Regions from separate parts of the Homo sapiens genome. Here all the other regions are reported to be linked to region 2. The links are microRNA targets in miRTarBase. Many come from high-throughput screens and were not tested one by one. Region 2 holds a microRNA gene; each other region holds the end of a gene's coding sequence.

Region 1 (4,000 bases), not on the chromosome of region 2:
CAGAGTTTCAGGTGGAGGGTGGTTAGGATGGGTGAAGTTCCACTGAATTTGATGCATTTTCATTTTATTTAAGGAAAGAACAGTGTGTATGTACAGTCTGCCACAGAGGGTAAATCTTTAAAAGAATCTTTTGCTCTTTTCCTGAACATAATTAAATTTCCATTATCTTTTTCTTTGCCAGAAGTTTAATGATTTATATTTAATAATTGAGTTGTAATTTATTCCCCACATTTGCTCCCACTTGATGAAGGAAGCAAAATCTAATGTAACAAATACTTTCTGACTAAATTTTTCCTTCTCTTCTTTAACTTTTCTTTTAGGACTCAGCCCAAAACCATGTTTGCCCAAGTTGAATCTGATGATGAGGAAGCAAAGAATGAGCCAGAATGGAAAAAACGTAAAATTTGAAGAATCTCATTTGAGAGCTGTTTGCATGAGTGGGAGGGGTATGGGACAGGTTTGGGTTTTTTTTTTATGCTCATGAAATTAAAAATTCATTTTTATGAACAGGTTTTGTCCTTTGCATTATTGAACTGGTCAAAAGTTTGGTGGCTAGGCTTCACTAAAATTGTGCTTAAATTTTCTTACCTGCAACTATTAAACTGATTACAGATAAACAAGAAACAGATTCTTAGTCTATTACCAAGTACTTTAGGTATTTGGAAACTTTATTCAACAATTATTGGTCTTGTCCAGATTCTCATAACCTTAGAGAGGAAAATGTACATTAAGATGTGCATCTGTCTCTAGCAATTCTAGGAACATAATATAGAAATAGAGATCAAAAAGTTTAATGTTTCTGTATAATTTCACAACAGTTGTTTACATGACTGTAATTAATTAGGCTGAGTTCAAACCAAATACATTGCCATACTGGGAAAGAGCATTATCTCATTATCCTTCAATAGCAGAATACAGTGGTTAAGAGTTAGGAGTGGGCTTTGAAGTCAGACTCATGTGGATTCAAGTCCTGGCTTTGCTCTTTACTTCTGGGTCATCTTAAGAGAGTTATTTAACTTTTCTTTTCTAGCCTCAGATGATGAAATAGTACGTACTTTGCAGGTTCGTCAGAAGAATTAAATGGGACATGCCTCACAGAGCATTTAGTACAGTACCTGGAACACAGTAAATGTATACCAAATATTTGCTATTTTAAAATAGGGCTAATATTTACTTTGCTTGGTTTTTATCAGTATTAAATTAGAAAGGTATAGAATTGCTTTGTAAATGTAAAGACTAAACAGAAGACATTAAAAATTATTCTAAAAAATCATTGTGCTTTAGTGACTAAAAAACTAAAACAAAAGTTGGCAGTTTGTCCAAAATAATAATGCATCAATAGAATAAATTCTGTGCATTGGTTTCACACAGACATGGGGTAGTTTTTGCATGTTAAATAGTCCCCTCTAGACAGGTTTTTTAGGACTTGCCTTCTCCCCTCCTGCTCTCATTTGTTCTAGTGATTTCAATAATTATAAAAATGCATGATGATCCCAAAAGTATATCAGAAAACTCCTGGTTTTACAGGCTTCACGTACCCACACCTGCTTCCCAAAAAATATTTTTAAAGAATCACTTGTACTCACACAGCTCCCTTGTCTCTACAGATTCTGAGGTGGCAGTGGGCATTCTTTTATAGATAAATCCTTAAAACTTCATTCTCATACACTTTCTCAGTCCTTCCTTCCTACCCCCATCCTCATCCTATTCCCCTTCTCTTGTGACTCAGACTATAGGTAATAGGTAAAAAGAAAAGAACTAACATTTGCTGAGTGTCTGCTACATAATGAGTACTATCCCAAGCCCTTTACTTGTGTTAGCTGATTTAATCCTCACAAAAACCCTATGAGTAGGTAAAATTGCTAAACCCATTTTCCAGATGAGGCAAAAGAGATTCAACATGTCAAATCATATGTCTGAGGTCACAGCCAGAGAGGGCTGCATGACAGCACCCAAGATCTCTAAACATCAGTAATTAACAAATAGCCCCAAGTTTTCTGTTCCTTTTGAAAAACACTTCATTCAGAATCAATTACAGACCAATATTTTGTTCCAGCTGCTTAGAATGTATAAATTTATTACTTCTTGAATAAAATTTACTGAAAGCATCTCACATTTTCCCCCATCTTAACATAAACATTGCACCATATGGAAGTATTCGTCTTGTACAGCCAAAAGTTGCAGTGGAGGGTTGGAGGAGGAATAAAAACTTGATCATAGTGGTCTTGGCGGAGTCAGCTATGATGTAAGGGAAGAGAAAGGCAAATTTCGCACGAAGATGATTTTCTCATCGTTACCCACAACACAAGTGGGCCTTTTCATATTTAAGAGGATCTGTCTCACTGTAGAGAGTTTTATAAAGAATTATTTTTTCCACAGAAGATTGGCAACATGCACATACGGATTTCAATTTCAAATTTGGTAAGGGAGGAGTTTAGAACCAGGAATGGACAAATAGTGTGTGTTCATTTGACCTGCAGTCCTGTCACCAGAGTGGGCATCAACAGTTATTTATCTTACAGTCCCTCACACTCCCCATGTCCCTCAGGCCTCGTTATCTTCCCCCATGCAACCTTGTATTTGGTCGCCTTCATTTCTAGTTGCTCGAAGGAACTGGCAGTCATCCTAATGACTCCTCCCTCACCCCCCACTCCCACCCATTTAATTATTTGCCAGTTTCTTCCCATGCTGTCTTCTGAATCTCTCATATTTGCCCTTCCTCTCTTTCCCTACCACCCCTCTAGAATTTAGACCCTCTTTTAGCCTTCACCAGCACCACTCAGGAGCCTCCTGCCCAAATGATCTTCCTGTTTTTCATTAGGTCCTCATCTAACCCATCTTTCATTCTGTCATCAGAGTTGGCCTTCTAAAGTCAAAATCTGTCATTTCATTCTTTTGCCTAGAGCCTTCCAGAAGCTCTATGTCAGTACTCATGCGTTTATGTGGCAATTGAGGACATCCAGGATTCGGCCTTTCCCTGTGTTTCATGCTGTAACTCCTGCTGATCTGGCACATGCTTCTGAGGCTCAGCCACTACTATGTTCTTTGGCACCTGAATGGCTTTGCACATGTTGTCCCCTCTTCCACCCTTGTCTGCTTGGAAAATTCCTATTTGATTTTGGAAACAGGAATCAATTTCACCTTCCCAGGCAGACAGTCTCCGCTTCGATAGTTGCTTACATATCTCTCAATTATAGCCTCCTTTTATGTTGCGTTATGATTGTATACACATGAATGGCTTGTGGGCCAGTGGTGTGTGCCCATGTGTGTACATGCATGTTTCCTCACTAGGGTGTAGATTGTAAAAACTAAAGAGCATTGGGTTCAGTAAATATTCAGTAAGTTTGTTTAATAAATTAGAGGAGCCATGTTCTATTCACATTTGTATTCCTAGACCCTAGCCCTGAGAAAGGGTTTAAAAAGAGGCGTATTCAATCTTTGGCAGAGGGAGGGAATGAAACAGGCAAGGATGAAGAATGGATGGGAAAAGAATGAGGTGTGAGAAGTGCTTCTGCCTCGCAGATGGAAAGGAGGATCGTTAGTACTGAAGGTTGGTCTGCATCCAGGCTGCTTTACCTCTTCTCTGTGGGGATTTATTCACAGCTAACTGTGATGGCTCAAGGAGGAGGCAGGATTATCTGTGCTATTCCTGGCAGGGCACAGCAAGTTCTAAGCCACCATGACATCCTCAGGTACTTGCCTCCTGTCCTGTTGGACTTGATACTGGGAAGGTCATGTGACCCTGACTTACCAAAGATCTGAGAGATGTCTAGCATGGGGATTCTTAACCTAGGCGGGATGTCTGTGAACTCCCTCAAATTTTATGCAGCATGCTTTGCTTATACTCGTACATTTTTCTGTGGAGAGAATCCATAAATTAGACTCAATTCGAGGATACTGGGTACAGCTAGTAATTCCTTCATCTCCCAGGATAACTGTCTAAAATTGGGCCATTCATACTTGAAAACCAGGACATAACTCTCACACATTCACACACACA
Region 2 (8,308 bases):
CTTATTGCAGAATCCTTTTCTGAAAGCAGCTGGGATTATCTAAACAAGGGCTAGCCCAGGTCATTCCTGCTCAAAGGCCCCCATTGCTCCTCATCACACCAAGAACAAAACCCACATTCTGCTCTAAGGCCGTTAGAGCCTGGTTTTGCTGACCTTTTCCCTCCTGCCACCACCACCAATCACAGACACCTGGGCCTTCTTTATGTTTGGCCCTGTCCAGCTCCTGTCCGTCGGGGTCTCTTCCCTGGCTGCTCCTTCTGCCTAGAATGTTCTTCTTCTCCTTCTTCTCCTTCTCCTTCTTCTCCTTCTCCTCCTCCTGCTTCTTCTTCCTTTCTTTTTTTTTTGAGACGGAGTCTCACTCTGTCGCCCAGGCTGGAGTGCAGTGGCGCGATCTCCGCTCACTGCAAGCTCCGCCTCCCGGGTTCACGCCATTCTCCTGCCTCAGCCTCAGGAGTAGCTGGGACTACAGGCGCCCGCCACCACGCCCGGCTAATTTTTTTTGTATTTTTAGTAGAGACGGGGTTTCACCATGTTAGCCAGGATGGTCTCGATCTCCTGACCTCGTGATCCGCCCGCCTCGGCCTCCCAAACTGCTGGGATTACAGGCGTGAGCCACCGCGCCCGGCCAGAATGCCCCTCTTCTTGATTGCATCTTGATGTCACCTCCTGTGAGACTGACTTTCCCCAAGCTAGCCCACGGCCCTCATTCCCTGGTATTTTCCTGTTGCTGGTATGTCCAGTCTGTCTGCAGCTACACTACCCTTGAGCCTAGCCTGTGTTGATAGAGCAGCCTCAGCACCGACCCTCAGTCTGCACCTGGTACCGGCAAAGGGAATGCCGACGGTCGCGCGTCGCCGCTGGACTCGCGACTAGCCAAGCACTCCCCACTAGAGGGCAGTCCCGTCTAGCTCGGTTGGGACGCGGCTGAGGCCCCGCCGGTGCGCTGCCACAAAGTCCCGCCCTCTCTTGAGTCCTCAGACGGGCTGAACCCCACTTCCATCCCGTTCAGGGAGTGCCAAGGCCAGCCTCACGAATGGGTCCCGTGGGTCAGGCCCCGAGGGTCCACAACCTCTCTGGGTCCGACCATCCGGGGTGCTCTGCCTATGTGCGGACGCAGCACGGCGCCCCGTGAGAGGGACCGCTATTTCACCATTGAACAAACGGGGAGGATGAGGCCCCCGCACGGAGGCGACCTGTCCTGCGTCACGCAGCAAACGCAGGGTCCACTCAACAGTCTGGGGGCTCGGGGGGTCCCCGTACCGGCCCCGTCCGGCTTCCAGTTATGACCCCGCCCTTCCCACCCAGAACCGCGGCGGAGTCGGGAGGGACGCCGGGCTTTAGCCCCGCCCCCTTTGGCCGCGGGGCCGGGGCGGGGCGCGGCTGCCAGATGTCGGGGCGGCGGCGGCGGGAGCTACGGAGAGCGAGGAGTCGCGCAGGCAGGCGGAGGCTGAGGGCGCCGCTGGCCGGCCCTCCCAGCCCTCTCCGCGCGGCTCCGCCGGGGTTCCAAGAGGAGCTAGTAGGTTCGGTGGGGGCCCTGGCATGGACATGCACAGCGCTCGGCTTGACAGCTTCCTTAGCCAGCTCCGCTGGGAACTGGTGAGGCTCGGGAGCGGGTGTGGTTAGTGAGGACGCGTGCGGGATGCCAGGCTGCCGCCCGGCCGGAACAACAGACGGGTGCGGGGTGGCTCCAGCGTGCCGGTCCGAGGCGGGGTGGGGGCGGCGTGGCGCATATGGCTCAGATGGCCCGCGTCGGGTTTCGGACGGTTGGGAACTGAGCTGAGCATCAGATAACAGCATCCAGCTGGCCGTGCTGCTGGAACGGCGCGGGAGGAGAGAGTGGAAGGGGGACTTCTTTGGGGGCGGGGCATGGGGCGGCAAGGGACTAACGAGGTGCTGGCGCTGCTGTGAACGCCCCCTACTTCAGGCTGGCCTATGCCTCCCTTCTCTACCCCTCACCTAGCAAGCGCTCTTTCTGTGAAAGACGCTTTGGGCTTTGGGAGCTGAATCCCCCAATAGGCACGGGATGCCCCTCCAGTCCTGGGCAGGACCTACTTCCCCGTTCAGGCCCGCAACCCTGCCTGCCTGCCCGCCCGCCCTGGTGGCGGGTGCCGACTTGCCCGGCCCTGCATGCTGCAGCCTGCCAGACTGCCACCAGGTCGGTGGATGAGAACCACACCAGCTTCGAGTGCCAGCACCCCTATGCCTGCCCTGTGCTCACTAACACCCTGCTGCCCAGGCCAGCAGGCCTATCTAACCTTCCTGGACCCTCTGTTCTCTGGGCTGGCCTGGTGACAAGTGATACCTCTCCGACTTCTGCCCTCTCTTCCCCTCAGTTGTGTGGTCGGGACACAGGCTCACCCTCAATGCCTGGTCCCCTGCAGCCAACCTCCCAAACTGGCCCAGATGTGCAGCCCAGCCACCAGCTTAGGGCCTCGGGTGCCTTGGAAGAGGACTCAGTCTGCTGTGTGGAGGAGGAGGAAGAGGAGGAGGAGGAAGCAGTGGTGACAGAAGACAGGGATGCAGCCTTGGGAGGCCCCAGGGAGCATGCCCTGGACTGGGACTCTGGCTTCTCGGAGGTGTCAGGCAGCACATGGCGAGAGGAAGAACTGCCTGTATCCCAGCGCCCAGCACCCTCAGCACAGCCCCTTCGTAGGCAGTGCCTCTCAGTCAGTGGCCTCCCCATGCCCAGCAGGGCCCCTGTAGCCAGTGTACCACCTGTCCACCATCCACGGCCCAAGTCCACCCCAGACGCCTGCCTGGAGCACTGGCAGGGACTGGAAGCAGAGGACTGGACAGCAGCCCTACTGAACAGGGGTCGCAGTCGCCAGCCCCTGGTACTAGGGGACAATTGCTTTGCTGACTTGGTGCACAACTGGATGGAGCTGCCTGAGACAGGGAGTGAAGGGGGTGACGGAGGTGGGCACCGTGCCCGTGCTCGGCCCCCTCAGTTCCTGCTTGGCCTCTCTGAGCAGCTTCGGCGCCGGCTGGCCAGGGCTCGGCGGACAGCTATGGCAGGAAAGCGGCTGTCATGCCCACCTCGCCCAGAACCTGAACTGCCTGCGGATGTCTCACGCTTTGCAGCTCTCATGAGCTGTCGTAGCCGCCAGCCCATCATCTGCAATGATGTCAGCTACCTCTGACCCTGCCCTCCAGCCTGGGACAATAAAAGCCTTTTTTCTAGACTGTCCTGGCTCCATACCCCTGAGGCACTAAGAGGCAGCCCCAGCCCTGTGAGGCACTGCCCAGGGAGACAAATCTTCTGAAGAGCTTTTTTTCTCTGTGTGAAGGTCCCTGTCATGCCCATGTCACACCCGTGTGCATTAGTGCACTGTTTTCTATCGTCCATCCTCTCTGCAATGCCTTCCTTTAACAAGCATTTATTGAGTGCCTACTGTGGGCTTACAATGCAGGGCTTGGGATCCGGGGCTCCATTGAGCTAGGTGACAGGGTGGCTGCCTTGTCACAGCTCATAGTGCAGAGGTGGGAAGGCAGTGTCCTCGTCGTCACCCTCACAGCTCAGCTCTAGCACCAACACCCGCTGCCCAGGAGCAGGTGCCTGGCCTGTCAGCTGCTGAACCAGTTCTGTCACCCTGGTAGGGGTGGGTTTAGGGGAGATTGGAGAGGTGAGCCATGGCAAGCAGAAGGCAGCCTGGCATGGACTAGAGAGGGTGCTGGCAGGCCGTCAGGAGCCCAAGCCAGGAGCAGGAGCTGCTCAAGACAGGAAACATCTGAAACTATTTTAGGAGCAGCTGATGAGGCAAGCAGGAGGCAGGAAGCTATGGGTCCCTTGGGAGTGGGCTGTGAAAGGGGGGCTGTGCAGCATGTGGGGAGCCCATGGGGCTGGCCAAATAGGCAGCTCCTGAAGACTCCTCCTCAGGCTCTCGGCCCTCACCCCACCTCCAGCCTGTTTGCTGGCTCCATTTGGGGAAAGAATGCTTGGGAAGGTGTGAGGGGCCCAGAATGGGGCTGGGAAGACAAAAGGCAGTGTGGTCCCTAGCCCCAGCCTCCAGGGACTGGTGGGGCCTGTCTAAAGCCCCAAGTGGGCTCACCTGAGGGGCAGGTGCTGGGCCTGCTTTTCAGGTGACCATCCGGCCGCATAGAGCAGGGCTGAGCCGTGCAGCAGGATCCTCACCCTCAACCCGTGCTGCTCCTAGAGGAGAAAGGTCAGACACCAGCTGGGCCGGGCTGGGCTGAGCCTGGGGGTTGGGGTAGCAACAGGGCACACCTGAAGATGAGCCAGCAGCGACTCCAGGGTCCTCTCAGGCTGCCCAGCTGGTACCTTCAGACGGTCCCAAGAGGTCCACTTCAGGTGATGGAACTGGGATGAGGTAGAGGAGGAGTCAGAGACTTCTTACCTCCCCCCAACCCCCATCCCAGTTACCAGCAGCCTTTCCTAGGGGAAGAGCTGGACTAGCAGGAAACAGGAGCCAGGGGGTGGGGGGTGGGGGGGAGGTGGGATCTGGGCCCAGAGTCTCAGCCCCCTCCCCGTCCAGGCCGGGGCCAGCACAGGAAATGGGGCTATGGGGCCCGCACAGGGAAACAGACGATCCATCACATGGGCCAGTTGTGAGAGTGGGGGATGAGGGGGTGGTGCTTCCTGAGGAAACCCAGAGCAGGGCCCCTGCAGCCTCTGATAAAGCTGCTTGTTCCTCAAAGACAAGGCTGGGAGCTGGGGGGCACATCCTGTCCCCCAATCTTGTATGTACTGCCAGTGCCTTGGGCTACTCATTGGGACACAGGGGCAAAGGGCACAGTGACCACCAGGGCCCCACTGTCCCAGAGACCCCAGCAGGGATACAATGCATAGAGGCTTCCTCCTCCTGTCCCTTCCTTCCTTCCAAGAGTCTTGGGGTTCTGGGACCTAGAGCTAAGGACAGAAGGATGGCTGGCAGGTATCTAGAGACCAGGACAGGGGGTGCTTATCAGCCCCTGAGAAAACACACTGGGGTCAAGCTGAGACTAGGCTAGAGGTGAGATGGGGGCTTCTCCTTCACCTGCTTCACTCTGTGGACAAAGGCAGCCTGTATGCTGGTTAGAGGCAGGGTGCCTCACAAAGGGGCTCTGTGTGCTAGTCCAGAGGGACCCCAGGCTGCTCAGCAGAAACCCAGTGCTGGCCCATGACCTCTGCCCTCTCCCCTCATGAGGGCATTCCTTCTACCCTCATCCTTGCCCCAAGGAAATGCCAACTGCAGAGCCTGGGCACAAGGCTGGAGGCATTCACAGCGCTGCAGTCACAGGAACACAAATGCCCACAAGCCCAGGAACACACACATGTGTGCCCACATGCATCTCCATGCATGCCCACATTGAGGACACAGGAAGATGGGAGCCCTGCACTCCCATCTGATGCACAGATGTGCAAACTTGCTCCTTCCATACCCACACTCCGGGGATGCCCAGACCCCAGTTGCACTCACAACTGTGACACAAATACACTCAGGGCTGCAGACCCCACACCTCTAGTGGCAAGCCTATTACCTTTTAACTCAGCTTGTAGGAGGTAGGCCAGGGCCCCCGTACCATGCAGGGGGAAGCTAGACTCTTTCTGGGGCTGATGCCCTGGTCCCCTCCCCACTACCTACCCCTCAGGGGTACTCCAAGGAAGGAGGGGACTGTGGGGGATGTCTGGCTCCACTAATGAGTTAAAGCTGCAGCTCCCCCAGATCCTGGGCTTTGGAGGATTGGGGGTGGGGATGGCTGACGGCTGCTTCCTGTGTCTGACAGGTCCCAGCCTGGCTTCATAGCAGGAAGAGGGCTGGAGGGAGTCTTCAGGACTTCTGCACAGTCTGAGTTTCAGTGAGAGCCGGCAGCTAGATTGGGGCCTGTATGGGCAGGTGCAGGGGAAACCCAGGCCTAGTAGGGCTAAGGGTGGGGTATCATGGGCTCACCGTCTGGATGGCTGGGGCAAAAGGCATATAGCGGATGAGGTAGTTTTCAGCCAGATGTAGGTAGCTGTGGCGAAAGGCACTACGAGGCCGTGGCCCACTCACCACCTTATACAGCTCCAGGCCCAACAGGCCTGCCACAGCTGCTGTAGTGGTGGCAATGGCTGGGATAATCTGGCCCACAATTCGCTTGCTCTGCCAAGGACAAGAGATTTGGTCTGGGCCCAAGGCGTAGGGCCAGGGTTTGCCCTCCACCTCCAGGCCCAAGCCTCAAGGGGTGGGGTTACCTGGGCACGGTTGACCGGTGGAATCCCGTAGTTCTGACATCTCAGGCTAGCTGCCGCTACCACAAAGTCCACATGGAAGTTGCTGTCATCATCCTGTAAGGCCCAAGTCAAAGTAGTGTTAACACTGCAGCTGTGCCCCTCACCGTGGCCCACTGCGTGTCACTGCACAAGTCTCCACACAGTTCTGTCGGGGGGTTGCCCCACATCTCCTCTTGATCAGACAGGCTGAGGTTCAGGGAATGTGAGCTGCTTCCAGGGTCTTGCTGGGAGAATTCAGGCCAAGGGGCTCCAAAACTACCTTATTAGCTCCTGACCTTTCTCCACAAACTCCCCAGCCCCACTCCTCACTGCCACTTGGGCACCCACCTTCTCAAACATCAGAGGCTTCAGGGGAGGGCCCACACTCCAGACTTCCAGGGCTTTGTTCAGTTCCTTCTGCTGCTCAGGGCCTGTCAGGGGAGGGGATGTTGAGGCAGTCCTTAGCCCCTGTCTCCTGCACTCTTCTTGGAGCCCTGTGCCTATTCTTGGTCTTTGCCAAGCCTGTCACTTACTATTCCCTGATCAAATCAAGAAGCCCCCTTAATTAATGCTACAATCTCCCCTCTAGAAGCCCCAGTCTTCACCCATGTGTGCTCATGACCTCTGTGACCCTGTCCTCACCTGCAGGCCATAGCTAGACACTCCCCAGGAACCAATGGACTTTATTTATTTACTTATTTATTTTGCCAAGAATCTGCCACAAGAACTGGGATGTGGGGTAGGCAGCAGGGAGAAGACCTACTGAGGGACCAGAGGATAAGCCTGAAACTATGGAGGAGTGAGGTTAGGAGGCCTGAGAGGTAGCAAATTGGCTGTAGATCCCCTAGGCCCTATCTTCCTTCTGCAGCACAGGCTGAGGACAGGACAGGTTCAGGCCTTTGAAAGACAGCATGAGGGGCCAGGGCCAGGAGCCTCACCAAACTCAGCAGAAGCCGAAGCCAGCTCTAGATTACTAGCAAAGATGGGGGCCATCTGTTGGGGGTCAGGCTGTGGCAGCAGCTTCAGCAGCTCCCTGAGTGCAGTCCAGTCCTGTGAGCCAGGCAGCCCATGCATCTGGGCATACAGGTTGGCAGCTGCCAGTACGTAGAGGAGGTGTGTGTCCTGCAGCCAGACCAAGAGCAGGAACAGAGGCATGGGTGCATGGGGTGGGGGTCACTGTCCATTTGTGGATCTGTTTGAGTGCCTGCCTTTGCCTCACATGTAGACACCCATATATGCACAAGCATGGCTCTCTCTGGGCATCTGTGCATCTCTGCAGAATGCAGAAATGCCTACCTCTGCTCTGAGGGGCCACATCTCTATCTTGGAGCTCCCTACAGAATCCCACTCACTTGGTTGGTGTCAAACTCCAAGGGCTGGGGACACTGTTTGGGACCTGACCAGAAGGGAGTTCCATCCTCAAGCACCTAGGTAGGTAAGTAGAAGCTGCTGGGCTCAGTCTGGTCCCCCTGAGCCCCCAGCGTCCCAACCCCTAGCCACACACTTTATTAGGTGGGAAGTGCCTCAGCAGCTGTTTGATGCCATAATGAAAGCAGAGTTTCCAGTGGCCAAGAGCCCACGCCACACAGTCTTGCCAGTTCTGTGGACGCACTCTCAGGACCCCAAGCACTGGCTTCAGTAAGGTGAGTGTCTGTGGCTCATCCATGTCTGCCAGGGAAGTGTGTGCCCTGCAGAGAGAGGAGGAAGTGTGAGACTGAGTCCTGCAGACTCATGCTTGGAGCCCTGGACTCCCATCTGCCTCTGTTGGTGGCCTTACTGTTGGTGGTGGTTGATGGTCTCTGCAGACAGTCGGAAGAGTTCTTCAAACTCATGCCGGGCCCACTGTGGAGGAGGGAGGAAGAATGAGGTATCAGGTGGAGAACAGGTCTGCAGCTGAGGGCTGAGCTGGGTGGGGTGGGAGTCTCCAGGGTGCTTCCTACCTGCAGGGTGTGCTCGGCTGTGCTAGGGAAGTACCGCACGGTACAGACAGGGTAGGGGGCATCCTCAGAAGCTGCAGCTGAGGCAGGGGCTCTGTAGGCCTCAGTCACATGTGGCATGAATACTGTAGCACTGCCCCAGGTGCCCGATGTGCCTGCCTCCAGCAGTGGCTTCAGATAG
Region 3 (8,308 bases), not on the chromosome of region 2:
AAAAGGCCCTTATAAGTTACGCTGTGAGCATCCCAGTACAAATGTAAACAAACACTCTAAAATGACAAGAGAATGCCTACAAGCAGAAAGATGGTGGTGAAATCAGGATTGAAACATGTATTATTTCGATGCTGTGTCTCGTAGTATTCAGTAACTTAGGGCCTTCTGGAAGCAGGACTAGCCCATCCAGGAAAATCTCCTTTCTCTTTTGCAGGGTGTGATAAGGCTCTCTGTTCCTCATCGTCGCCCTACCTTTGATCTTGACCTCCAATGTCTGCTTCTACTGCTTTGCATTTTTATAAAAATAAATTTGGGCCTGGCACGGTGGCTCACGCCTGTAATCCCAACACCCTGGGAGGCCGAGGTGGGTGGATCACTTGAGGTCAGGAGTTTGAGACTAGCCTGGCCAACATGGCGAAAACTTGTCTCTACTAAAAATACAAAAATTAGGACTGGAAGCGGTGGTTCATGCCTGTAATCCCAGCACTTTCGGAGGCCAAGGCAGGCAGATTGCCTGAGCTCAGGAGTTCAAGACCGGCCTGGGCAACATGGTGAAACCCCACCTCTACTAAAATACAAAAAAAATTAGCCAGGCGTGGTGGTGTGTGCCTGTAATCCCAGCTACTTGGGAGGCTGAGGCAGGAAAATTGCTTGAACCTGGGAAGCAGAGGTTGCAATGAGCTGAGATCGTGCCATTGCACTCCAGGCTGAGTGACAGAGCGAGAGTCCATCATCATCTCAAAAAAAAAAAAAAAAAAAAAAAAAAAAAAATTGGCCCGCCACATACCTCAGTTGTTTAATTAAAATGTTCTCTCTCTCTACCCAGTCTGTGGACTTCTGGCTGTCCCTGTCAGTGTCATGGTGGGTGTGTGACTCAGTGAAGGGCAAGGCCCGAATCTCAACATGCCTTCACCCGGCTCCTGGGAGGCCCTGGCCGCCATTGTAGCCAGGCCAGGGAAGGAGGAAGGGAGTTGGTGCTCTGGTGCGACCCCTGCAAGGAGCTGAAGGACCAGCAAGTTCTAGCCAGAAAGAATCCCCAAGGAAAGGGGAGCGTTACCAGGAAACAGTGTCCCCAGTGCCTTGCCATAGACAAGATTGTGCAAAACAAGAGACATGTCATCACAGGAAAAGAAATCACTGGGCCCTTTGGGGACTCGTTGATGAAAGACTCATTTGACCAACTGGGACTGGACAGCCACTCGCTGTTGACTTTTGAAAGCCACTGGGCCCAAATCTCAGCCCTCTTGAAATGACTCATTGCCAAATGCCACAGTGACATTTCCAGGGAAGGGGTAGGTTTGGGGGGGGTTGGTTAAACCAAACCTTTAGTGCAAAAGCCATTTTGTCCAGGACTGGCTTGATCCTGGACAGGTCCAGGTCACTTTGGATAGGTCATAGTTAGTTCCCAGTTTTGGGGGATGTAAGTAAGTCTCCTTCACCCATGGTCTCCTGGACCAACTTCTTGCAAGAATCTTCCCCTCAGCTCATCTCCTGGGCCAGCTCCTGGAGGCCCTGCTAGTATAGCTGAGGCACATGAGCTTGGGGAAAAGGTTTCTTTTGCTGAACACACAAAGAGCACAGACTCTGGGCATTTTGTTTTTGGTGGTGGTGTTTATTTTTTTAAACCCACTTGTAGTTTGGGTTCAGCTGGAAAGCAGGACATACCGACGGAGGGAGGGTGGTCGCACTAGCGGGGTTCCGCGGCAGCTTTGGCGGGAAGCCCCAGGCCCTTGCTCTGGGGAGGTAGGTCCTGTCGTCCACTCCCAGCCGGCTCAGGGAGGCGGCCAGCCCTTCCGTGTGAGTGTTCCGCGCAGAGGAAAGTTGTCTTTCTTTCTTCTGATCTGTGTCCTCAAAGGCCCAGCCAATGGTTTCCCAACACAGTGCCCTGCAGCTGAGGGACACGACTCCCCAGGCAGGCCTGAGAGTCTGTCTGTCTGACAAGGAACACGGGCCGGTGTCTGATGCCAGAAAACAGACTGGGACTTGGCTTCTTGGAGGCCCGCGTCTGGGGCACCCCATGGGGCTGCTCTGGTGGCGGCCTGGCTGTCTGGGCCCCCGCCCCTACAGCTGCCCCGGCCTGATCTGTGGTACCCTTCCCACACCCCCCACCCTCATCCCTCGGAGAAAATAATAGAATAAAATAAAAATCAATCAGAATAAATACCGACTCGGCCAACATTTACATTTACATGGATGGACAGGACGATCCCCAAACAGTGAAGGTTTACAGACTGGTCAAGGAAGGACGAACAGAGAGAATGGGGTCTGAGGGTGCACATCCCGTGGAGGGTGGCGGGGCTCCTGGCCTCGTCTGGGTGAGGTTGGGGGCCTCGCTGGGGCTGCGGTCCCAGAGCTTCGGCAAAGCCACCAGGCCTTGGGGAGCAGGGCTGTGGCAAGCAGGCCGCCTCGGAGAAAAACAATGACTAACTCATCCTGACAGGCAGTGGGGAGACTGAGACAGGATCAACATCAGATGGCTGGACCGCCTCTTCCATGCGCCAAGAACCGCGGGCGAGGGGAAAGCAATGCAAGCCTTAGAAATGCAATATCCAGCTCTGCCTCTCATCACATACATTCAGAGGTCAACTCGGACGCGGCCTTCCTCATGCCACAGAGAGGGGATGGACTTGGGGAGGGGGCCAGGGTCTGTGGGGCATCCACTTCTGTCCTGCAGTTCCTGTCTGAGCAGTCTCCCTCGGGAAGCTGCCTCGGGGTCTCAAATTTTAGGCTTGACTGTTGTTTCTTTAAAAAAAAAATAGTCTTAACGTTTTCCTTCCATATCTGAAAAAGGAGCAGCAACCTGCATTTAGAAAAACAGCTTAAAGTGTTGTTGTTCAGATTGGCTAGGAAGCGCTTTCAAGCAGTGGAATAAACTAGGCAAACAGTATGTCTGGAGCCACCGTGACACGACATGTAATTAAAAATATATTTATATATGTATACATATTTATATTTCACTTCTTCTTCACACTCTGGTCCTAACAGCCAATGGGGAGCTGCCCCTGTGGCCAGGCCATCAAGGAGCCCGTTCGGAGGAAGGAGAATCAGGCCCCAAGGTGCCCACAACACAGCCCCCTCCACACAGTGTTTCGGAGCGTCCTGCGTGAAGCTTGCTCTGAGCTCACCGTTGGGTCTGGGAGACCCCACTCCCCTGCCTCCTCCCTGACCTGAGCTCCCACTCCCAGGTCTCTCCTCTCTTCGGGGGCCTTGCCTCCTCCTAGCGGACAAACCCCACATGCTTCAGGGGGGCAGGGGCCACTGAAGCACAGGTGGAGGCTGCCTGGCCACGATGGCAAGCTCGCCCTGGGGCCTGCCCTGAGCAGCCCCGCATCAGCCCGGCTCCTCCCTCGAGGCCTCCTACCCGCGGGGCATCTGTGTTCCCAGGCTGGGCTGGGGAGGAAGGGCAGTGAGGAGGAGCTTGAGAAAGTCTGGGAAGAAACCGTGGAGGGAGGAAGAAGGCAGGGTTCAGGGCCAGGGACCAGAGGTGGCGTGCGCTTCTTGGGAGAGACCACTGACCTGTTTCAGGTAAACTTGTGCCCCCTACACCTTGTCGCCAACAGGCTCTTTTTAGAGACAGGCAAAGGCTCCACACCTGGGACCAGAGGGCAGGTTGCAGCTGCAGGGAAAGCTGGAGAGAACTGGGGAAGCCTCTCCCCACTCGCCACTCTCAGACTCAGAATCAATCAATCACGAGAACCTTCCCCGCCCATCACCTCCCGGCCAGTCCAGTGTGGACCAAGAGGGGCCTCCAAAGTGACCCAGGGCCTGCCCGGCCTCAATAAAAGAGCAAATAAGGAAGCGGCTAGGCTCTGACATCATTTCCGGGGGGGCTCATCAAAGTGTGTGCTCCAGCCCCCAGAGATGGAGCTATGTGGACACCTGTTCCACCCCACACCTTCCTCTCCAGCCAACAACAGGGCCTGCTCCCCAGGACCAGGGCCTGCCAAGAAACCCCGTCTTGTTTCCCGGCTGGGAAGCTTCATCTGGCGACCCCGCTGGTCACCTGACTGTCCCTTCCATGACCCAGTGAATTCACCCCTTTCCCAAGAGCTCACGGAGGGCTGGGCTTCTACGTCCGAGCTGGGGCAGTGACACAGCGCATTAGCTAAAATCGAGTCCTGGGGAGCCCCCACTCCCATCCTTTTCCCCAGTAAGACCTGCGTGTGGAGCGCAAGACACCATCTAGAATTTTGGTTTTAATTTGCCAGTCTCGTTCTGTGCCCTGTTTGCCACAAGGCCCCTGGGGCCAGGACCAGGTTTAACTTGGTCCCAGTGGTGACAGTATCAGCCCTTTGAGAAAACAGAGGCGCTGGAAGCCAGTGGCGAGGAACACAGGATTCCAGCGGGGACCCCCCGCCGGGGCAGAAGTTTCCAATTACCCTAATTGGCTACTGGCAAGCTGTCTGTGGCTCGAATCCTTCTTCTAGAGGGGAGCTGGGTTTGATCTCCCACTAATCCGGGGGTCCTCAACAGTGCTGACTGTGTGATCACATCACGGGCATTTTCATTGGCCAAAGAGACTTCAAAGCAACCGACTTTTGAAAAATAAAACACAATAAACAAAAGAGTGCAAGTGGAACTGCAAACTCCATCTCCCCCGCTGCGCCTGACCCCCTAGGCCTGAGGCTGTGGGGGCTGCAGTGAGGAGGACTTGGAGGTGGGAGGTGGAGCGTCAGCTCTGCCATGGCTGACAAAGGCCGTCAATTACGGGCGGCTGGTGGGGACCGTGCCTGCCTTTGTCCTCCCGGACATCTGCTACACGTCGCCTGCTGCCAGTTGGCGACTGCGGCTGACAGCATGCGGGAACAATGCGAGCCCGTCTCCGACCCACTTTTTCAGCCTTCCGAGGTCCTTTCTGACCCAAGCGGTGCCCCGGCGTGCGAGGCTGCCAAGGTCTCCGAGGAGTCACAGCGATGAGATCCCTCACACAAAGCTCCGTGGGGGATGGGTCTGATGGGGAGGGGAGAGGCGGGAGTGAGGAAGGGGAGGGCCAGGGCCACCAGGAAAAAGAAACATGCTTCCCTTATTGGTGTGAGCTTGCATGCTCGGGCTGGGGGGCTTGTGCGGGGGCACTCCTCTCAGGGATTTGCTCCCTTCCCCGTCTGGCTCCAGACTGGCCACCGACTCTGCCTGCCCTCCTCCCCATTTCTTTCTCCCGCCAGGGCCACCCCTGTCCTCCCGCCTGTCCATCTGGCCCTGTGCACCAGGGCCCCAGCTGCCCGTGGGCCGCCTGCCAGGCCCCCTGGCTGTCAGGCTGTCAGTTTCTGGATGGTTCTGTTGTAGTACTGCGTGATGGGGGGCGTCAGAGGGTTCCAGCTGTTAGCGTGGAGCTCGATGACCTCTAGGAGCAGCGACCGGGTCAGCATGGACTCCGAGGGGCACAGCATCTTGTCCCGTGCGCTGGCCAGGAGCTCTGTCATCATCTCAGGCAGCTGTTCCTCCAGCAGCCGGCCTGTACTCTGCAGCTGCAGACAGAGATGTGGGGTTAGGATGGCCTCGGGTCCCACAGTGGCCCACTGGCCACCCTGATTAGGTGGGCAGGGATAGGAAATAGCTGGGTTGTCTTAAGGACACACAGGCCCAGACCCCTGTGCCACAGCTGGAATGAGGACAGGGAGAGTGGAAGGTGGAGTAGCCAAGAGTGAGAGCTCACATTTACCAACCAATCTGCCAGCAGGATCCAGAGGGATCCGAATATTGCCTACTGCCCAGGGCTGAAAGAGCTGTCACCAGGAACATGCCTCTTGTCCCTTTTACCCAAGAGCCTCCCTCTTCCAGGAAGCCTTCCCTGACTACATCCGCACCCTCAAATGGCTCCATGATCTGTGCCCCTTGGTGATCAGGGGGCCCTGTGGTCATTTTCACTTGCTGGGGCGTCTCTCTGGCAATGAGCTTAGTCATTATTACATGTGTCCATTGGAACTTGAGAGCAGGGGTGATGCCTCCTGTTTCTCTCGCTCTCCTTTTCTCCTGATCCTGATCCCATCTCCCAGCCCCCAGAAGTGACCTCTGCTCATGCTTGTGACAGGAAGTGGGGGAGAGAAATACAAACTGGGGAAGAAGGCCAGCCAGAGGCCGTCAGGAGAGCCCTAGATAATCTTGAAAAGCCCACTGGGAAGGAGCCCCTATTCCTGGACCAGCACACCCCTGGCCAGTGCCCCCCAGGCCCTCTCTATAGAATCTCAGTCCCCGTCTCGGTCCCCAGCCTTGTCCCATTCATTTTTCTAGTCTCTGCCTTCTTCACAAAGCCTCCCTTGAACCCCTGAGCCCTTCCTGACCTCTCTCCCCTGACTCTTCAGGGATGTCTCTGTACTTACACTTATTCTATCTACTCTCTGAGAGCTATTCCTAACCAGACTGGAAGCTGCCTGAGGGCAAGGACCAGGCTTTCTCCTTCTCCCTAATTCCCCCCTAATCCCAAGCCCCCTGTAGGGTGCCCAGCTGGAGGCCAACAAACAAACTGAGTCCCACAGACCCAAGACTGCCATCTGGCTCCCAGTGCTTCTGGCCTCTGAGCTCCTCAGTGAGGCCTTTGCAGCCAGGCGGAAGCCACCTGAGTATGCTTATGACAGCTGCCAGGCCCAGGTCCTCGTCTGGAAGCCCCTCTCCTGCCTGCATCCCACTCTGAGTGACTCTGGACCATCTGCAGAGGGCAGAGATCTGCCCAGGGACTGGGCCAAAGCCAGGCGCTAAAGGGAGAGCCCAGAGGAAGAGTCTCCATTAGCAGGGGCCACAGCTTAGGGACAGGAGTGGCACCTCCCAAGAGGTGTGCTTTCGGGTGGGCTGTGCCAGCACTGCATTGCCAAGCATTAGCAAAGCAAAGGGAAATATTTGAGGGCAGAGGTAATCAGGAACTTCTTAAGTCATTTGTGTGGCATGCCTGAGCTGGGGCGCAGGGGGTCTTTGGGGGACAGGGAAGTAGGCAATGCCACTGGGAATCACTTCTCTCTCCCTTCAGTCAGGGGTGAGCTGCTCTCACCATCAGTGTTCACTCTGGCTTGGGGTGGATAATTCTGGATGCAGAAGTCCATGCCCACTCCTGAAGCCATCCACCTACCTTCCCCTGGACTTGTAAATGCCTCCAACAACCCTCGTGCCCCTAGAACTGTTAAGGCATGAGAGATGCACCGGCTTTGAGGTTGGGGATGTCGAAGCCCCAAAGCTTACCTCCATAGAGCAGCAAAGGACAGCATCTTCCTTCACATCCTGAGATTGCAAGAGCTGTGGAAGAGAGGGGCAGAGAGCACCACTGAAGGAGACATGCCGGCTACTGGGCCCTGTAGCTCCCTGCAGCCCCCGCCGACCTGCAGCCCCAGCCCTGATGCGGCCTGTAACAAACATCTCCAAGGTTCAGGCTAGAGTGAGAGCCCACAAAAGTCAGAGAGCAGAAAGTCAGTTGCGCCGGGTGGCCGTGATTTCTCCGACAGGGTTAGAGCAGCTGGAGGTCAGTGTGATGGTGCGATGTGGAGCCCCTGGGCCAGGTCTGAACACCGTGATTCAAGAGGCCACTGAAGAGAAAGCCTGCAGCAGTGAGTGCGCTGGGATCATCCAGTGTTAACAACTGGTCAGCAGAAGTCCTCAGGGAAATGAAATTAGCTTAGAGACGTATAATTGGTAACTCCTCTATGGGTGAGGAGGTTCAGCCATTGACTCAGGCACCCCTGGGCCCTGGCCACAGGAGGAAGTCCAGGAGTCAAAGCCCTCTTCTCCACTGGCCCAGTGCTGTAGACTTTCAAACCCACAAACCTGTGGACTTACTCAGGGGCTGGAACTGTTTCCTAACTAGGGCCATGGCTGGGCTGCTCAGCGCTCAGTCCTGCCGTGCTACAGTCCATGCTTCCCCCGACTTGCCTGGCTCATTCTCTCAATCTCTCTGTCTCTTTTAAATTGAGATACCATTCACATAACACAAAATCCACCATTTTAAAGTATATAATGCAGTGCTTTTTAGGATATCCCCAGAATTGTGCAACCATCACCACTATTTAAGTTCTGAACATTTTCATCACTCCCCATACAAACCCATACCCACTAGCAGCCATTCCCTGTTCCTCCTCACTCCAGCCTCTGGCAACTCCCCCCGATTCTATGTCTCTATGGAGTTGCCCGTGCTGGACATTTTATAGAAATAGAATCACACAATATGTGGCCTTTTGTGATTGACTTCTTTCACTTAATGTTTTCAGGGTTCATTCATGTTGTAGCATATACCAGTATCTCATTCCTTTCTGTGGCTGACTAATATTCCATTGTAAGGATATGTCACATTTTGTTTATCCATTCATCTGTTAATGGACTTTTGCGTTGT
Region 4 (8,308 bases), not on the chromosome of region 2:
GCGGCAGCCCAAGGACGTGCTGCGGGACATGCAGCAGGGGCTGAAGGACGTGGGCGCCAACGTGCGCGCAGGCATCAGCGGCTTTGGGGGCGGCGTGGTGGAGGGCGTCAAGGGCAGCCTCTCTGGCCTCTCACAGGCCACCCACACCGCCGTGGTGTCCAAGCCCCGGGAGTTTGCCAGCCTCATCCGCAACAAGTTTGGCAGTGCTGACAACATCGCCCACCTGAAGGACCCCCTGGAAGATGGGCCCCCTGAGGAGGCAGCCCGGGCACTGAGCGGCAGTGCCACACTCGTCTCCAGCCCCAAGTATGGCAGCGATGATGAGTGCTCCAGCGCCAGCGCCAGCTCAGCCGGGGCAGGCAGCAACTCTGGGGCTGGGCCTGGTGGGGCGCTGGGGAGCCCTAAGTCCAATGCACTGTATGGTGCTCCTGGAAACCTGGATGCTCTGCTGGAAGAGCTACGGGAGATCAAGGAGGGACAGTCTCACCTGGAGGACTCCATGGAAGACCTGAAGACTCAGCTGCAGAGGGACTACACCTACATGACCCAGTGCCTGCAGGAGGAGCGCTACAGGTAGGTGCCTGCCCACCCCCTCCTGCAGCCCAGCCGGACGTGGGATGAGGCAAGGAGCACTGGGTTTCAGACCCAGGGTGTGGAGGCAGTCAGAGGAGCATCCTCAGCCTCCTGGCTGCTGGAAGGAGCCAGCACGAGGCCCTAAGGAGCCTTCTTTCTTTTTTCCTTCTGTATTTTTTGGAGGCGGAGTGTCTCTCTGTCGCCCAGGCTGGAGTGCAGTGGCACGATCTCAGCTCACTGTAACCTCTGCCTCCTGGGTTCAAGCGATTCTCCTGCCTCGGCCTCCTGAGTAGCTGGGATTACAGGCACGCACCACTACACCCCGCTAATTTTTTGTATTTTTAGTAGCGACAGCGTTTCACCATGTTGGCCAGGCTGGTCTCGATCTCCTGACCTCAATTCAGGGATGACATTAATTCCTTCTTCATAGGGTCATAAAGATACAATGAGTCCAGACCTGTAAAGTCGAAGCATGTGAATGGATGTATAGCTTCCAAAACATGAACCTCCAGTCGGAGCTCCTGGGGCCAGCCTGGAACAGAGCTGACATCTCTCGGCCTCTCCTTCTGTGTCTCCCTCCGGTCCTGTGCTGCCCTTTTCTGCCCTTGGCTCTGTGCCTCTGCAGCACTTGCCGCTCGCTCCCTGGGCTTGTGGGGGGATCTTTTCCTTAGCTAGCACTTTCTCTTTTTCTTCTCCATATATATAAAGAAGGCTTGGAAAATTGAAGGGGAGCCCCACCTAAAAGCTAACCACTCCTCACATAACAGTCATCTTACGCTATTTTGTGCCTTCAGAGCCGGGATTGTGTCCTCTACACCCATGTGTCCCTGGTACCCAGAGAGCATCTGAGCCTAGGGCTTAAGAGCCCAGGTTGAAGTCAGCCAATCCTTAACTCCTCCATTCATGAGCTGCGTGATCCTAGGCAGGCTCCTCAGCCTCCACGCCTCAGTCTTCTCCTCTGTAAAATGGAGATGACACTGGCACCTATCTCATGGGATTGTGGGGAGGATCCTATGAGGTCATGTAGGTAAAATGCTTAGCACAGTGCCTACACCTAAGAAGTGCTGTGTAAATAGTAGCTTCTATTGTTGTTGCTGTTAAAATTAGAACAGAGCAGAGCTGGACACGGGGGATGGGCTGAGTCATTGTTTATTGAGAGAATGAATGAATCAACTGTGGGAGAGAGTGGAAGCTCGGGGAGCCAGGACTGGTGTCACTCTCTCTCCCTCCGCCAGGTACGAGCGGCTGGAGGAGCAGCTCAACGACCTGACTGAGCTTCATCAGAACGAGATGACGAACCTGAAGCAGGAGCTGGCCAGCATGGAGGAGAAGGTGGCCTACCAGTCCTATGAGAGGGCACGGGACATCCAGGTATGGCCAGGGCAACCTTGGGAGGCCCCAGATGTGCTGGTAGAGCTGGCAGCAGCCAGAGGGTTAGGGTTCTTGTCACGTGGGGCATGATAGACACAGGCTGGCCTGTTGGCCGGGGCCGATAGGCACATGGATGAAGAGGGCAGCGTAGCGGGAGCGGAGTGGAGTGAGCAAGACAGGCCTGAGGCTGACAGCGTGCACTGTGCAGAGGCAAGCCCACAGGGCAGAGGCCACCATGCCCCCCACCTCTTTGATGGCAGCTTCGCAAATGAGTATTTGGAGTTTCCAGGCTCCAGCCTGCCTCAAGAGGGAGCCAGCTGGGATTGGGCCAGCTCTTTTCCTTCCCTAGTAATCAAGACTCTCATTTCCTAGCATCCTCCCCAAAGAGTCATCCTTAAAGGTCTCTGACCCCAGTTGCAGCTGGTCAACCTCCACTCCTCCTGGCCTTTGGAGAGGAGACTTCGTTATAGGCACCTTCTCAGTGGGGTAGGTAGGTTTTCAGCCTAGGGGTCCTGCCCATCCTGAGCGCACACATGCCAGCCCCTCTGCCCCTGCAGGAGGCCGTGGAGTCCTGCCTGACCCGGGTCACCAAGCTGGAGCTGCAGCAGCAACAGCAGCAGGTGGTACAGCTGGAGGGCGTGGAGAATGCCAACGCGCGGGCGCTGCTGGGCAAGTTCATCAACGTGATCCTGGCGCTCATGGCCGTGCTGCTGGTGTTCGTGTCCACCATCGCCAACTTCATCACGCCCCTCATGAAGACACGCCTGCGCATCACCAGCACCACCCTCCTGGTCCTCGTCCTGTTCCTCCTCTGGAAGCACTGGGACTCCCTCACCTACCTCCTGGAGCACGTGTTGCTGCCCAGCTGAGTGGCCAGCCACACCAACCCTGTGCTCTCTGGCCCCCAGCTGGCCACACTTCTCCAGGAGGGACCCTTGGACTTCTTTGTGTGTCCAGTTTGGCCTCCTGCCCAAACTGTCCATTCCAGCAGCTCCTGCCCCCTTCTCTGTACTTGCTTCTGTCTGACACCTTCTCCCTGTTGGCCTGAAGGGAGCTTAGAATGCAGCCCTACCTGGAGATAGTGCGGGCACCTGTGGCCAAGTGGAGCAGAGGTGGACATGGGGTTGGATTGTTTTGATTATTTATAGTTACACAAGGACTTCTCCCAGCTGACCCTCAGGATGCCCCAAGTCAGGAAGACCATTAAGAATAGGAGGAGAGGGCTCTGCCTCAACTTTCCTAGGAAAGAGCCCACCTCGGAGATAGCTACGGTTTTCTCTGGTGGAGATGGTGAGGATGAAGGCTGGAGAGTGAGGGAGGAGGCTCTGCTGGCCGCAGAGAACACAGGGATGGGAGGGTCCCTAGCCTTCGGGCACCTCCAGGGCCAGAGAGCAGGCTCAGAGCAGCTAGTGTGGAGCTCAGCATCCCCACCCCACCCCTCCTCCCTGTAGAGCTGATTTGAGGCCTCCTTCTGGGGCTGGGCTCTGCAGGCCAGGTGGGTGTGGCCTGTGTTTTCCCTTCTGTTCTTTCTGCCTGTACTGGATCTGTTATTTTCAGGGAAACAGGCCCCAGGGCCCCCCTGAGCCTCACCCTAAGCCCTTAGGCCTCTGAGAGTGCTGTTGGGTTCTATTTATTTATTTATTTGTTCCTTTGTTCCCTACCCGTGCCCCCAGTGTCTTCCCTGCTGAGTACCAGGAGAGGTCCTGCCCCATCCTCTCTCTGAAGCCAGGGCCCTTCCATTCCATTTAGCCTTTGGATCATCCTGGCTGGGAGAAGTGGGACCGAGCCACCCAGCCCCACTATCCCCAAGCAGCCCTACAGCCGGGATGGGAGGCACGTGGCCTCTCTTTTATCCGTCTATTTATTTTGTAAGTGTATTCGTGTGGAGGAGGTTGTTGCTTTATTTTTTTAAGGCTCTGGAGTGTTGTGTATGGTTTCTTTTCACATCCCAGCCTCCCATGGGCACTTCTAAGAAGAGAGGGGATTTCTTGGAAAAGGAGAGAGGAATCCCCTAGAGCAGGGAAAGCAGTGCCTGCCAGCTGTTGTGCACCTTCCTGAGAAATAAATATCCTCTAAATTTTCAAACCATCCTGTCTGGTGTTGGTTGATTAGGTTGTGTCTGTGGGAACCACCACGTCTCTCCCCACACCCAAGCATTCTGGGTAACACAGGCTAGGCCTCTCCTGTTGACCTGAGGCCCTCTTCCTCCAGAATCCGACAAGGAACAAGGCATGGCCTAAGCGGTATGATAGAAGGGATGATATCCACCCCATCCAGGCCTCTTAGAGTCCAGGCAAAGGCAATTAGGAGAGAGATTTCCATAGCTCGGAGCAGGTGAGCCACCAGCGGCCTGAATGGCAGCAGCCATACCCAAGTGAGGCCACGAGAGGGCAGCAGAGTCCTTACGCTAACACTTTCTCCCGGTGCAGCCCCAAAGAAGGCAGCTGCTGGAGTTAGCTTGGTTTTCTCAGAGCCGTCAGCCAGAGCACAGAGCACCTGCTCTCCAGGTGCTGGAGCATGGGCTTGAGTGTAGTGACCAGGCCCTCTGTGGCTGCAGCACCCACTCCCGGCAGTTCACACAGATGGGCACCCTAGATGGCACTGCACTCCCAGCAGTAACCCTGTGGGGGTTTAGGAGAGGCCACCTGAATCTCCCTGCTGGGATGAAAAGATGCTGACTTCCAGCATCTGGAACAGGAGGGATGGTGGGAAATGCACCCACCCCAGAGACCTGGGTCCTGGCCCATAGTGAGTAGATGGCAGCCAACTCACATCTCTCTGCACCTCAGTCTCCACATCAGCGGTAGAGGATGTGCAGCAGCTCACTTCGAAGGGCTTGGACATTCTGCAGTTCTGTGGGTCTGACAAATCAGAAGTTGCCGCTGTACTTGTGGCCTCAGGCTTGAGGAGACAACAAGAGTCAGAGACAGTGCTGTCACCAGATTGGAGAGAAGGCTGTGCTGGTGCCACGGGGGGTGGCATTGGTGGCTCATCCTCACCCTCTGCACAATGTAAGAGTTTCACTAGGTGACCTTGCCGGGGCCTTCCAACAGTGTCATTCCTGGACCCTACACTCACCTCCCTTGGGGGCCACAGGTGTCCTAGAGCCCACATTCCTGGGCCCCAGGTGGGGGGTGGCTGCCCCAGGCTGCAGACATTTCCCACATTCCTCCCCAAGGTCAGGTGCCTTCCCTGAATTAAATGTCACTGCCAACAACAGCCCACACTGAAAGGGAGGAGGAAAAAGGGAGGGAGGGTGGCGGCCATGCTCAGCTGATCCTGAGACTGACAGCGAACAGAGGAGGTGGGGGAAGACCAGCCCCAGCTACACAGGGTCATCTGCAAAAAGGACAGAACACCAGCCTGTGTTTGCCTTATCATGACAACGTGTCTAATAAAGCCCTGCCTGTCTGGGACTCTGATGGTCACTGATGCTTCCTTGTTTGTGTTTGAGCCTTCTCGCCCTTTAGAAAAAAGGGGGTGCGGCCCGGCATGATGGCTTACGCCTGTAATCCCAACACTTTGGGAGGCCAAGGTGGGTGGATCACCGGAGGTCAGAAGTTCGAGACCAGCCTGACCAACATGGTGAAACCCCATCTCTACTTAAAATACAAAATTAGCCGGGCGTGGTGGCACATGCCTATAATCCCAGCTACTTGGGATGCTGAGGCAGGAGAATCACTTGAACCTGGGAGGCGGAGGTTGCAGTGAGCCAAGAGTGTGCCATTGCACTCCAGCCTGGGCGACAAGAGTGAAACTCTGTCTCAAATAAAAAAACAAAAAAAAAGAAGGAAAAAAGGGAGTGCATTGCCCCCACTTCAACCTGGCCTCCTTTGCTGGGGACCGTTCTTCAGAATGCAGGGCCAACAGGCAGGTCCTTCCCAGAGCATCTGTCATGCAGGTCCCAGCCCCTCACCTGAGGGTCCGGAGGTCTCAGCCAGGCTGGTATGCTCCCCTCAGCCTGGGTCCACTACAGAGGGAGTAGCTAAGAATTCATGTTGAAGTTGGCACGTTACTGCTCCAGCAGCACTGAGCAGGCAGGTGGCATGTTTACCATGCCCGTGCAGAGCTGGCACTCCCTGCCAACCTCATCAAAACTGTAGGGCTACAACAGGTGCAGCCCTGGCAAACAGCAAAGCAGGCAGACAGCACAGGCCAGCAGGAGGTGACTTAACCCCTGCCAGCACAGGTTACTCTGGAGTGGTTCTGAGCTATGGAGGGAGGGAAGGGAGGAGGAAAGACTTGGGGCCACAGGGTGGGAGAGGAGGGGAGCTGCAGCCTGGGCACCTGGAGGGATCTTCATGGCAGGTTCAATTTCCCTTTCAAAGCCAGGGCCCTTAAGTCAAGTCTGGATCCCAATATTAAGGAGCCAGCAGACCTAGGCTCAAACCCCAGTGCTGCCACTCACCTTGGACAGGGTTCCAGCTGCTCTCAGCCCAATCTCCTCATCTTCCAGGAGGAATGGAGATGACATGGCACTGGCTCACAGGCTTGGGTGCAGGAGACTTGACATTCTGCAGGTCAAGACTTAAGCACAAGGCCTAGAATATGATGGATTAACCCGAGACTGGACTTATTACTGCTCCTCTTTCCTGAGCCTGTAAGATATTAAGATGCAGAAGAACTCTTCAGGGAAGTCTAAGGCCGACCCCACAGGAACATACAAGGCCAAGGGTGGCTAAGTGAGCCTCAGCCTCTGATTCTGGAAAACCTAATAGAGGTCCTTAGGGTTCCTCTTCCCTGGGAACCCAGAGCCTGCTTATTCCCAGCAGCCTCTCCCCTCGGTCTGGTAGACAAAGCTGGTCCAGTCCCAAGAGGCCAAGCCCCAGCTTGAGAGAGGACTGGATTCAGCCTATTTGACCCAAGATGGCTGCCAACACCCCAGCTCCACAAGTGTATCAGTCTGTGGGTCCCTCCCGCCTCCAGCCCATGGTCCTGGGTGTGGGGTCTAGGAAGGAGAGCAGGAATCAAGATGCCTGCTTTTGAGTTGAGACTGTGGAGGTTGTGGGCCTCAGTTTCCCCAGCTGAAACATGGGGATAATCATATCCGTGCTGCCCAACTGTTAGGACACCGGTGAGGCTCGTAGGTGTCAGCTATGAGTGCCTGCCCCATGACACCCCAGGATCTCACTCTAGGGGAATGACCTGTTAGAATGCTGCCAGCCATCTGGGGCCCCCAGGGAGGGCTTTGATCTGCCCAGGGACAGGGCTGGGCAGGGCTTGGGAAAGCAGCCAGCAGTGACCCATGGGCCTGACGGCTTGCAGCCAAACTCCAGATGCAGATGGAAGGAGGAAGCTTGGTCCCCACTAGGCTGCGGGGAGGCATGTGGGGAAGGAGGGGAGGCTGAGACTTGTCCCAGCACATTTGGGCCTGCTGGCAGGTCCTGAGTCACTCAGCCAGAAGAGCAGTCGGGGTGGTGACAGCAGCGATGCCCGCCAGACACAGGGCCTCCCAGGAGAGCACTCCCGCCTTGGTCCCCCCATACCCCAAGGCTCGACTGTCCGGATGAAGCATCCTGGGCCCAGCGGTGCCACCTCAGCCATGCGCCTGCCTCCAGGCAGCCATCCACTAAGCTGGCTCTGATTCCAAAAGCCCCAGAGGTGATCCTGAGAGGTCTGGGTGCCCAGTCTCGGCGCCCTGCCAGCCTCAGCTGAAGGTTCTCTTGTTGCCCTTACTGTGTTTTTTTGTTTTGTTTTGTTTTTAAGTGAAACAAATTATTTCAGTTTAATTTTCTCAGCATGTATCTGGCATTAAGTAGTTGTTATAATTTTTTTTCCATAGGTTATTGGGGAACAGGTGGTGTTTGGTTACATGAGTAAGTTCTTTAGTGGGGATTTGTGAGATTTTGGTGCACCCATCACCCAAGCAGTGTGCACTGTACCCTATTTGTAGTCTTTTATCCCTCTCTTGTTGCCTTACTTTGATTTTTTTTTTTTTTTTTTGAGACAAAGTCTTGCTCTGTCGCCCAAGCTGGAGGGCAGTGGCACGATCTTGGCTCACTGCAACCTCCACCTCCTGGGTTCAAGCTATTCTCCTGCCTCAGCCTCCTGAGCAGCTGGGACTACAGGTGTGTGCTACCATGCCCAGCTAATTTGTTTTTTGTTTGTTTGTTTGTTTTGTTTTTTTGAGACGGAGTTTTGCTCTTGTTGCCCAAGCTGGAGTGAAATGGAATGATCTTGGCTCACCGTAACCTCCGCCTCCCAGGTTCAAGTGATTCTCCTGCCTCAGCCTCCCAAGTAGCTGGGATTACAGGCATGCGCCACCATGCCTGTAATACTAATTTGGTATTTTTAGTAGAAATGGGGTTTCTCCATGTTGGTCAGGTTGGTCTCGAACTCCCAACCTCAGGTGATCTGCCCACCT

What was found. Region 2 holds the annotated microRNA hsa-miR-5193 (UCCUCCUCUACCUCAUCCCAGU, at 4,318-4,339, opposite strand). A microRNA usually pairs through its seed, bases 2 to 8, with sites in the 3' UTR of a target mRNA and lowers its output. Matches are read on the target gene's strand: a 7mer-m8 pairs with bases 2 to 8, a 7mer-A1 pairs with bases 2 to 7 and ends in A, and an 8mer does both.
Region 1: miRTarBase lists WDR70 as a target of hsa-miR-5193. The part of its 3' UTR that is shown has no 7-base or 8-base seed match.
Region 3: the mRNA of CTIF is a reported target of hsa-miR-5193. Seed matches in the 3' UTR shown: 7mer-m8 at 5,135-5,141, 7mer-A1 at 3,213-3,219, 7mer-m8 at 3,211-3,217 and 7mer-m8 at 3,155-3,161.
Region 4: the mRNA of TMCC2 is a reported target of hsa-miR-5193. Seed matches in the 3' UTR shown: 7mer-A1 at 3,156-3,162, 7mer-m8 at 3,261-3,267 and 7mer-m8 at 3,830-3,836.

Annotation. Positions count from the first base shown.
Region 1 is chr5:37,752,166-37,756,165 of GRCh38, forward strand. It overlaps WDR70 (WD repeat domain 70), which reads left to right. Exons shown (of 18, transcript NM_018034.4): 18 at 321-1,270. The coding sequence ends at 408. Among named protein-coding and RNA genes, the nearest start is that of GDNF-AS1, 86 kb to the right of the region's middle.
Region 2 is chr3:49,801,848-49,810,155 of GRCh38, forward strand. It overlaps MIR5193 (microRNA 5193), which reads right to left and starts at 4,398; the gene lies at 4,290-4,398. It overlaps INKA1 (inka box actin regulator 1), which reads left to right and starts at 1,414. Exons shown (of 2, transcript NM_203370.2): 1 at 1,414-1,596; 2 at 2,334-3,183. The coding sequence starts at 1,546. The coding sequence ends at 3,140. It overlaps UBA7 (ubiquitin like modifier activating enzyme 7), which reads right to left. Exons shown (of 24, transcript NM_003335.3): 14 at 8,131-8,308; 15 at 7,968-8,032; 16 at 7,695-7,878; 17 at 7,543-7,617; 18 at 7,129-7,312; 19 at 6,539-6,621; 20 at 6,173-6,265; 21 at 5,889-6,080; 22 at 4,226-4,318; 23 at 4,050-4,150; 24 at 3,362-3,590. The coding sequence ends at 3,461. It also overlaps a transcript of CDHR4 not described here. RefSeq lists silencers at 811-860, 1,251-1,690 and enhancers at 4,369-4,663, 4,650-4,929, 5,559-6,455, 5,660-5,829, 5,930-5,979 and 1 more.
Region 3 is chr18:48,856,501-48,864,808 of GRCh38, reverse strand. It overlaps CTIF (cap binding complex dependent translation initiation factor), which reads right to left. Exons shown (of 12, transcript NM_014772.3): 11 at 7,168-7,221; 12 at 1,592-5,465. The coding sequence ends at 5,250. Among named protein-coding and RNA genes, the nearest start is that of CTIF-AS1, 19 kb to the right of the region's middle. RefSeq lists enhancers at 1,890-2,441, 6,602-7,103.
Region 4 is chr1:205,269,312-205,277,619 of GRCh38, forward strand. TMCC2 (transmembrane and coiled-coil domain family 2) reads left to right here. Exons shown (of 5, transcript NM_014858.4): 3 at 1-573; 4 at 1,809-1,944; 5 at 2,502-4,032. The coding sequence ends at 2,813. Among named protein-coding and RNA genes, the nearest start is that of TMCC2-AS1, 36 kb to the left of the region's middle. RefSeq lists enhancers at 178-698, 2,402-2,546, 4,749-5,330, 5,331-5,913, 6,522-7,181, a cis regulatory region at 2,474 and a silencer at 4,210-4,504.